Regions from separate parts of the Homo sapiens genome. Here region 2 is linked to region 1. Evidence: fine-mapped expression QTL. A gene starts in region 1. The other region holds a variant in brackets. All regions are shown on one strand. Distances are between the middles of the regions.

Region 1 (5,386 bases):
CAGGAAAAAATAATTGCTGAGCCAGGTGAAGAGGCTTAGGCAAAAGAAAGAAAAAAAAAGTGATAAGTACTACAAAATTAATTTGTCTAGATTCTAGAACAAAAAATTTATATTTGGGTATGTGTGAGGTAATCTGAAAGATCAGATTAGGTCTCTGATAATCACAAAAAGTTGTGGAGTAGACTGAACAATATTATCTTCATTTATAGATAAGTAAATTCTAGCATAGAAAGGTTAACTTTTTTTTTTTTTTTTTTTTTGAGAGGGAGTCTCGCTCTGTTGCCCACGCTGGAGTGCAGTGGCGCAATTTCCGCTCACTGCAACCTCCGCCTTCTGGGTTCAAGTGATTCTCCTGCCTCAGCCTCCTGAGTAGCTGGGGTTACAGGCGGGGACCACCATGCCCAGCTAATTTTTGTATTGTTAGTACAGCCAGAGTTTCACCATGTTGGCCAGGCTGGTCTCCAACTTCTGACCTCGTGATCCGCCACCTCGGCCTCCCAAAGTGCTGGGATTATAGGCTTGAGCCACCGTGCCCAGCCAGAAAGGTTAACATTTGCCCATGGTCACAAAACTAGTTAGGGACAGGGCCAGCAATGAATAAAATTCATTTCTCTTGATTCACAGCCACATATTCATTTAATTAGATCATGATTCTGCTCAATGTTCTCCAATTTTGCCTAATATAACTCTTGAACAAAGTTTCTCACCATAAATAACCCTGCCCCCATTCACTTCTTCTTAAATGTCTACCCTTCCTCTGAAGAAATGTTTTCAAGCATATTTTCAAGATCTACTTTAAGACAAACCCTACCCTCTTACCAACAGACCTGATTACTGGACAATAAAAAGGAGGTTTCTATCCTTACTGACTACAGCCATATCCTTTCTGTGGCTACTAACAGATTTAGGTTCCAGTAATATTTTAAAAACTAACCTTGGATAATAGATTAGAAAATTACTAACTATTGCATAAAGCGGACTTCCTGCTTATTTATTGCTTGGAATTACCATCTTCAGTGCAGTCGAGGGTGAGTCTAACCGCATAGGGTGCAACTATGTTACTGTCCTTCCTCTTCACGGCAAATAAGACACACAATTCATCTTTCACAAGACCATAAAATGGGACTTCCTTTTTTAAAAAAAAGTTCCTCAATAGAAGCATGCTTAAAAATCTTTCCCACATCCTCTAAACCTTCCAAAGATCCAGTCTTCCCTTCATTATACTTTCCTACAATAACAAATTTTTTTGAAAGAGTACACTCAACCTGTCTGAACTTCAAGATTATAATTTTTATCTAGTACTGTACTTATCTCTGCCACCTACTCAAATTACCCTTAAGGAAACCAAGGATACCTGAAACGCCAAAATCAAATACTTATTTTTCAAGTCTTAACCTTATCTGTCCTGGGGATGAAGGAACTGGTGCAGTGTTCACTAGAATGATAGTAATTATGGAGCTCTTAAGGAGCTCTACTCTGTGCCAGGCACTGTACTAAGCATTCAAAAATGTTCATTTAATCTTCACAACATCCCTGAGAAGTACTACCCCCTTTTAATAGATTAAAATTGGGGCTCAAAATTACCCAGAGGCCAAGTAGTTAGTGAAGCCCATATGATTCCAATGTTTGCAGTCTCTTCCCAATTCTGTGGCATTTTCTCCATCTCTTTCACTATTTCATCAACGACGCTTATAATCAATTCTCTTATTTCACATGCTCTCCTTGGCAATTTCATTTCCTCCCAAAGCTTTAACTACATTCTATATTAGTGCTTCCCAACTTTTTAAATCTTTCTGTAAATATAAACATTTTGTGCTCTCTGTAGCTTATATTTTGAAAATAAGTTTTTTCCCATAGAAATTACAATATTGAATATGTTTGTTCAAACTACACTTCCTTCCACCACTCAAGATCTGTTAACCTCTAATGAATTGCCCCATGATTGACATCAATAGACCTTGATGCAGAAATATTTTATTGGAGAGATATCAAATCAATCTCTATTTCCTCTTCCCATGTCCACTTCTGCTAGACATTTCTCTCGAGTCATAAACATCTTTAACTGTCTAATAAGCATAGTTCCATGACTGTCGCCCCAGGCCCTTCAACATAAACCTGTCTAAAACCAAACTCTCATTTCCCTTAGCAAACCTGTTCTCTGCGTTCTCCAGCTAATCTTGTCACAACCCACCCTTGTCTATTCTTTAAGGTACCTACCTGCAAAACCGTAACGCTGATACTCTGACTTCCTTGAGCTACCAGGTAAAAAAATCAACCACTACAGGAGTGCCTATTATGGCCTGGAGTAGAGGAATGCAAAATAGTTCAAAATATCCTCTTCCTCCTGAAGAAACAGATTTTTTTTTTTTTTTGGAGAGGCATGTTCCAACTTATAAAATTAAAATATATTCACAAGCATTTTAATTTGATCTTTAATCTCTGTTTTACAGGAAAAAAAAATGAGATGTTACTTTCCACTCCTTCATTGTTGAAATAAACTTACACTCAACTAAAAGAAAACAGGTCTGAATACAATAAAAGTCAACAGGACAGCGCAAATAGCCAACTACCCAAGGACACAAAGTGACCTGGAGGCGTTCTGCGGTGGCGCTGCCGTCAAGGCCGGGGCCGCCTGGCCAGACCCTCCCTCAGACGCCCCCCGGGGCCGCCCTCACTCCCGCACGTCCCTCTGCAGCTGTCCTCAGCCGGTGGGGTCGGCAGTGACCGCGGGAAAACCCCGCTTGCTGTGCGACCCAGGGCGCGCTGAGCAGGGGCTGCGGCTGCCGCCGCTGTCCGGCTCCGGTTCCGGCCCCGGCCCCGGGCCCGGCCAGAGCTGAGTCCGGACTCAGCCAAAGCCCCTCGCCTTCAGCTTCCCAGACGTCCGACCAGTGGAAAATTAGCATACCTGGGGCAGAAGGCAGCTGCAGGGCCGGCAGTCCTGGCAAACCTAGAAGGCGGGAATAACCCTGGTGACGGGCGGGGCCGGGCTCCGGCGCTAACTGCATCCACTAGGTTTGGTCAACACAGAGCCGCGCCAACTCTCTGAGGCTGCGCCAAGACCTGAAGCGGCGGACCGAGAGCCCGGGTCTGAGACTGAGAGAGCAACGGAATGGAGGCGGGGTAGAGGCGGAAACACAACCTGCAGGGCCAGAGCGAGGCGCGAGAAGGACGGCGGCGTGAGGGGGCGGGGCGCGCAGCGCGAGAAGGCAGGCACGAGGGGCGAGCGCGAGGCGGGGCACGGCGCGTGGCGTGAGACGGGGCGGGGCGCGCGTATCGGCGCCGCGGCCGCGTGACGCGTTTTCAAATCTTCAACCGCCGCAGCCCACTCGTTTGTGCTTTGCGCCTTCCTCCTCCGCGCCTTGGAGCCGGATCCGGCCCCGGAAACCCGACCTGCAGACGCGGTACCTCTACTGCGTAGAGGCCGTAGCTGGCGGAAGGAGAGAGGCGGCCGTCCTGTCAACAGGCCGGGGGAAGCCGTGCTTTCGCGGCTGCCCGGTGCGACACTTTCTCCGGACCCAGCATGTAGGTGCCGGGCGACTGCCATGAACTCCGGAGCCATGAGGATCCACAGTAAAGGACATTTCCAGGGTAAGAAGCCCCTCCTCCGCCTGCAGTCCCTTTAATCCTTTCCTCCCCTCGTGGTTCCACCATTGATTCTTCAGACTTCTCCCGCCGGGTCCTCAGCTTCTTTTCTTCTGACCGGCCTCTGGGGTCTGAAGGAAGGAGCCCCCGTTCAGTGTTTTGCCTAAGAAGGAACGGATCCTGACCCGGCCCCTCGAGCGCTCTGCCGTTTACAGCGGCGGTCCCAGATTGATTCCCGGTCGTGCCTTCGGTTGAAAACTAGCAAACAATGTGCAGATCCGGGACCTCGCCGGGACTGCGGCGCTGTCTGCTCCCGGGCTCTCGCATATGCTAAGCCTCCGCCCGGGCCCTTGGAGGCGACGGACTGCATCCTCAATTTAAAGTCAGACGCGCTCGTGGCTTTTCGCTTCAGGATTAGATTGAGTGATTGTGGGTGGATTTTTGGTCTTACCCTTGAAAGTTTATTTTCCTTTCCTCATAAGTTGGGGGAAAGCATTGTATTTCAAACACCCCATTGCTGGTTTCAACATTACAAACAGGGAAACAAAAGCAAATTTCCATTTTCAGTCACTTTATTTGGTGAAACATTCCAGCACCTAAGTTTTTTGTACAGGTGTTTGTGTGTGTGTAGTAACTACCAATTTAAGAACAGATTGCGTTTGAAAAATTAATTTTTAAAGCAGTTGCTTGGATCTCAGATCTGTTTCTAATGAAAATAATGAAAGGTTTAGTTCTTCGTAATGGACCGTTAAGTTCTTAATACGTAGACAAATTGTATGTGAAATGGACCGTTTAGTTGTTAATATGCAGACAAACTTTATATGAAACTAAAACTTGAGCAGTCTGAAACCCTTGAGGACTAGGTTATTCTGCGTAACAGAGGATTCTTTCATCGCTAAATGAAGTTTAAACACCAGTTTTGAATGTTCAGCAGAATGGCAGATGCTCAATAAATAGTTGAGTATTAAATATCCCCATGGAGTTTACATCCTAAAAAAAGAAAATCTTTCAAAAGAGTTTTATATAGTTCCGTGCCTCAGGAATAAACACACGAATATTTCTTGCTGAGTCAACTATTATTTTACAATATGCGGTCTGTGAAAGTATATAGGGCATTTTGCCTCTATCCTAAGTAGTACTACAAAGAAATACATTTCAATGCTAATAACTTAAACTGGTAGGGTTGTAAGGATTTTTATTCTGTAATATTGTATAATGAAATATTTTAAAAATAGTAAAAGTGTCTGTGTAAAACATCTGATTCTAAACATCTTTAATAGGTGGAATCCAAGTCAAAAATGAAAAAAACAGACCATCTCTGAAATCTCTGAAAACTGATAACAGGCCAGAAAAATCCAAATGTAAGCCACTTTGGGGAAAAGTATTTTACCTTGACTTACCTTCTGTCACCATATCTGAAAAACTTCAAAAGGACATTAAGGATCTGGGAGGGGTAAGTGAAAACCGTACACTGGCATAGAAGGAAAAATTTGTAACTAGTACTTTCTACTGTGTAATCATTTAAATTTTTCATTTTGGAAAACGCTTCTATTAGCACCAAGCTTAACATTTTTATCAGCTGTTTATCGTTAACAAAAAACCATTTGTTTTAACCTTTTGTGGACTGACAGACCTTTCAGGTTTCTCTGATTAGCAGTCTAGTGTAAAGTTCTTAGAGTGTAAGACTCCCCTGTCCTAGTGGAACTGCTCATTGACTGCTTACTGTAATGTTGGAATGTCCTCCAGATAACAGCAATTTCTTGATTATGAATCTTGGGGAGCTACATAAGTTTGTCTGGACTAG
Region 2 (5,386 bases), 230 kb before region 1:
GAGGCGGAGCTTGCAGTGAGAAGAGACGGCACACCACTGCACTCCAGCCTGGGCGACAGAGTGAGACTCCGTCTCAAAAAAAAAAAAAAAAAAAAAAATCTATTGTCTAACTTTCAAACAGTTGAAGGTTTTTTAGTAACCTTTTATTTGTTGATTTCGAATGAATTCTGTTGTGCAGAGAACATATTCTGAAAGATTTTGAGCTTTTGAAATTTGTTGATGCTTTATGATGCAGTATATGGTTAATTTCAACATATATTTAATATGCATTTGGAAATAATGTGTATTCTGTCATTGTTGATTGCATGATTTATATATGTCAGTTAAGTCTAGTGTTTTAATTGCCTTGTTCATGTCCTCTGTATTCTTACTTGTTTTTTGTATACTCTTTAGTATTGAGAGAGATGTGTTAAAGTCTACCTCTATGACTGTAGATTTGTCTGTTTCTCCTTTTAGTTTTGTGATTTTTACTATAAATATTTTGTTTTGTTACTAGTTTTATGGAGATTTAGAATTGTGGTCTCTTCCTAGTAGTTTGATTCATTGTCATCATGAAATGTCCCTCATTATCTCTAATAATGCTAGTGCCTTAAAGTCTGTTTTATCTGCTACTAATACAGTTATAATAGCTTTCTTTTAGCTAATGTTAATATGATGTCTCTTTTTCCATCTTTTACTTTTACTTTTGCTCTTTCTGGGCTCTTATATTTAGAGTGTCCTTGTAGGTAAGATAGGATTGAATTTTGCATTTTATGTAGTCTGATAATCTTAGTCTTTTAATTATTTAGCCCATTTTAATTAACGTTATTACTATTATATTTGGATTTATAGCTATCTTACTGTTCATTGTATGTTTGCTTTTTTCTCTTTTCTTGCCTTCTTAAATATTAATATTTTTATAGTTCCATTTATTCCATGATTCCAGTTTTTTACTTTGTGAACTTGTGAGTCATATATTCCATTTCTTTATATATGTTTATATATATTTCTATTCTTTTGGCAGTTACCTTTGGTTTATTACAGCTTAATGCAAATTGTAACTTTTACTACTTCTCCAATAGTGTTAGAACCATTTATTCCCCCACATCCTAAAACATACTTATATATATATGTGTATATATATATATATATTAAATCTTACATTATTTTATTACCATATTTTTTTACAGTAGGTATTTAGGAAATACACATTTATATTTATCCACATATTTACCCTTTCCATTTTACCTTCCTCAGTTTTGGAAAAATTTTGGTTATTATCTTCTTTTTACTTTTTATTTTTATTTTTTAGAGGTTGGGTCTTGCTGTGTTGCCCAGGCTGGAGTGCAGTAGTGCGATCATAGCTCACTGCAACCCTGAACTCCTGGGTTCCAGTGATCCTCAGCCTCCTGAGTAGCTAGGACTGCAGACATGCACCACCACACCCAGCTAATTTTTTTTTTAATTTGTAGATATAGGATCTGGCTATGTTGCCCAGGGTGGTCTCAAACTGCTGGCCTCAGGCATTCCTCCTGCCTGGGCCTCCAAAAGTGTTGGAATGACAGGCATGAGCCACCACGTGTGTCTCCATTATCTTTTTACACTCCAATTACATTATGTTAAACTTTACCAGGCCTCACTTGATTCATATTCTTTCCCATGGTTTCTATTCTTCTTTCTCTTTATGCTTCAGCTTGTATGTTTTCTATTGACTCCTTTTCTAGTTCATTAATTATGTCTTATGCTTTGTCTATTCTACTGTTTAATCCATTGAATGAGTTTTTAATTTCAGGTAGTTCCAGAATTTTTATTTGATTTTTTAAAATAGACTCTAACCCTCTGATTTTAAAAACCTGTCTTTTTACCTATGTACTTCATTTCTTCTCATCTCTTGAATGTATTACTCACATTTATCTTAAAGTTCTTATTAATTTAGAATTTTGAATTATCTTTATATCTACTTTTATGGTCTGCTTTTTCTCTCTTACTCCTTTCTTTGTCATGTATGTTCTATCTTTTGTCACATCTAGAATGTTATTGAATGCCACACAATGTTTATTAAGTTATTTCTTTAATACTTTTGTTGTTCTTTTAGTACTATCATGTTTACCCTTTTGTCAACCATTTTGTGTCAAAGTATTCATAAGAACATAGTATACAGTAGAAATAGACCACAGTGGAGTAAACAGATGGAATGCACCACTTAATTTTAGAAAGATATCGCCAACAGTTTACTAGTACCCATGGCCAATAGTGTAGGTTAATGACCACTTTGCTTTACTAGTGTTCATCTTCCTCCATAAGATTGAGTAGCAGCTGATTGCTTTCATCCAATCAGGGACTGTGCTGAATCCAGACTAGGTTTTAACCATGGTTAGTCTTGAACAACCTACAGTTTGCTCCTGGCCTTTCAGGGTTTTCAACTTGGATTTGGTATATTTTCTAGCACCCTTCCTCCAGCAAGCCAAAACAACAAAATGCACTGATTTGGGGGCGACAGTAAACAATCACAGTAACTACTGTTTACCAAAAGCTGGCCGACAGCTGTGAATGTGCACTAAATGAAAGAGCTCTTCTTCCCTGCCTTCCTCTTTTACTCTGACACTAGATTGCATATTCAAAAACAAATCCTCCAAAATACATATTGTTTTGAAAATATTTTATGAAAGAAAGAAAGTGGATATGATGCCCACATTTTGTTGTTTTAGCTAAGTAAAATGATTTATTGTCTGTTATCTCCAGTGATGGTGATTGTCTTTAGAAGAGGTTAGGAAAACAATATCCTCCAAAGATTCATATTTAACATTAGATTTTGTGATTTTTAAATCTTAGTATTTACAGAACCAAATCTTCTGTTATATTTCAGGTCTAATCTCAAAATTAATATTAATAACAATTTAAAATTTTCATAAATCAATCACAAAACATCTGTATCTTAACATGATAAGAAAATATATTTAATTTATAC[G/A]TGGACGATATGCTTTTTGCAGGAAAAATATTAGATTCAGCCTTCATCACTAATAATGGAAATTTTAATTATAATAATTTTTATTTAAATTAGATTTATTTTATAGTTAAGGCTAACATTGCCAGAATTCAAACCCAAATATATCTGGTTTCAAAACATATATATATATTTTTAAAACTGTGCTGTCTTGATTGTCTGTGATACAAGTCAGCTGATGTGTGTGTTTGCATAGACAGAAACTGGGACCTTTCATTTTCGTAGCATTCTAGTGTTGATAAACCATGAAGACTATATGTTATGGTTTTTTTCTGTTCTTCACGTTGTTCTATTGCTGCTTTTAATGTCTAGCTTACTAGGAAGCTCACTATGTTAAAGTATTCTATTTGAATATTTTCATTTGTTCTTGGATAAAGAATAATTGGATTCCCAAGGGATATGTGATCCAAGTATATAAAGTGTTCTTTATTAAAATAATTTTAATTGGGAGTTCTTTCATATGAGATTAAACCAATGTATTTTAAGATAGGAAGTTTTCTTGGTTTGATGGCTTACTAATTTTAGATGAATCTTTTTGGAAAGTTTTGCCTTATTTATTTATTTATTTAACATATATATTTTATTATACTTGAAGTTCTAGGGTACATGTGCATGAAGCTGGAAACCATCATTCTCAGCAAACTGTCTTTTTTATTTTAAGAGTGTGCTTCTAACGTTATTTTTTATGTTTGGCAATCTGCTGTCATCAGTCTGCTTATATAGCAATACAAGATGTTAATAATATAGTATTTCCATTCTTAAGTGTCTAGATTAACAATTCTCTTTTAAAATAAATTTTGACAGTACAGATTGAGAAAATATTTTAAATACACATCTGTCTCTTTATTTAATTTTTAAAATTTTCCTTTTTAGAGACAGGGTCTTGCTCTGTTACACAGGCTGGAGTGTAGACGCATGACCATAGCCCACTGTAACCTTGAATTCCTGGGCTCAAGTTGTCCTCTTGCCTCAGCCTTCTGAGTTGCTTAAAATAACAGCCTCTTTCCACCATGCCTGACTAATTTTTACATTTCCTTATAGAGATGGGCTCTTGCTTTGTTGCTCAAACTCCTGACCTCAAGCCATCCTGTGGCTTCAGCTTTGCAAAGTGTTGGGATTACAGGTGTGAGCCACCACACCTGGCCCTGCTTTCTTCCTTTATTTTTAAGTTGATTTTTACATTGCGTAAAATTTTTTGAGATAATAAAATATCACGAAGAGAGTTTCATGTTTCAGGGTACAAATTTCAGGGAAGATGGTTGGGACTTTTTTTGGTTCCAATAAAAGTTTATTTACAAAAACATTTAACTAGTTGTATTAGGCCTGTGGACAACAGTCTGTAGACCCCTGCTTAAAGGATATGTGAAAGGTATTTTTTCTCATTATAAAATATTTTAAATAGATTAAAATTATATTAGAAAAGAAAGAGGAAAATACACATGATGTTTGAGAATTCTTTTTTGGGTGTGTGGGTGCGGGGCAGGGAGTCTGGCTCTGTTGCCAGGCTGGAGTGCAGTGGCATGATCTGGGCTTACTGCAACTTCTGCCTCCCAGGTTCAAGCAATTTTCCTGCCTCAGCCTCCTGAGTAGCTGGGACTGCAGGTGCATGCCGCCATGCTCAGCTGATTTTTTTTTTTTGTATTTTAGTAGAGACAGGGTTTCACCATATTGCCCAGGCTAGTCTCGAACTCCTGAGCTCAGGCAATCTGCCTGCCTCAGCCTCCCAAAGTGCTAGGATTACAGGCGTGAGCCACCACGCCCGGCCAAGAATTCGCAAGTTGCATAATATTTGAAGAAAGAAGGGAAATTACTTTTTTTGTTTGTTTCCGCTCTTTCACCCAGGCTGGAGTGCACTGGCACCATCTCGGCTCACTGCAACCTGTTCCTCCCAGGTTCAAGTGATTCGCCTGCCTCAGCCTCCTGAGTAGCTGGGACTACAAGTGTGTGCCACCATACCTGGATAATTTTTATATTTTTAGTAGAGATGGAGTTTCACCATGTTGGCCAGGCTGGTCTCAAACTCCTGACCTCAGGTGATCCACCCGCCTTGGCCTCCCAAAGTGTTGGGATTACAGGCGTGAGCCACCGTGCCCAGACCTGCAAATTGTTGATTCTGAAAAATTCTCTGTGTTTCTGATGTAAAATATAAGAGAGAAAATAGGCCTTCCAGTGAACAGATATCTCTGGGTATTGTGCTTATTATCACCTATAGTCACTGCTTATATTATGTTTGGTGTGGATTGTGTCATGTCTCTTGGAAGCCATCTCCTTGTTGATCATTGATGCTGACTGTTATTTTAATGGCAGAGGATAATTACCTCACCCCTGTGTTAGAGACTACTAACAGCAATGACATATAATAAGGAATATTGTAAATTTGGTTTGAAATAGTGGAGAGTTCTC

What was found. PIP is the estimated chance that this variant, and not a neighbour inherited with it, causes the effect.
Region 2: its variant is fine-mapped to the expression of SLC25A40 in whole blood (TOPMed, PIP above 0.99).

The regions. Positions count from the first base shown.
Region 1 is chr7:87,873,191-87,878,576 of GRCh38, forward strand. It overlaps SLC25A40 (solute carrier family 25 member 40), which reads right to left and starts at 3,170. Exons shown (of 12, transcript NM_018843.4): 1 at 2,906-3,170. It overlaps DBF4 (DBF4-CDC7 kinase regulatory subunit), which reads left to right and starts at 3,303. Exons shown (of 12, transcript NM_006716.4): 1 at 3,303-3,588; 2 at 4,863-5,035. The coding sequence starts at 3,543. RefSeq lists silencers at 2,563-3,012, 3,143-3,402 and enhancers at 2,766-3,275, 3,463-3,582.
Region 2 is chr7:87,639,079-87,644,464 of GRCh38, forward strand. All of the region lies in intron 1 of RUNDC3B (RUN domain containing 3B), which reads left to right. It also overlaps a transcript of ABCB1 not described here. Among named protein-coding and RNA genes, the nearest start is that of RUNDC3B, 13 kb to the left of the region's middle. The variant G/A (reference allele first, on the strand shown) is at 2,948.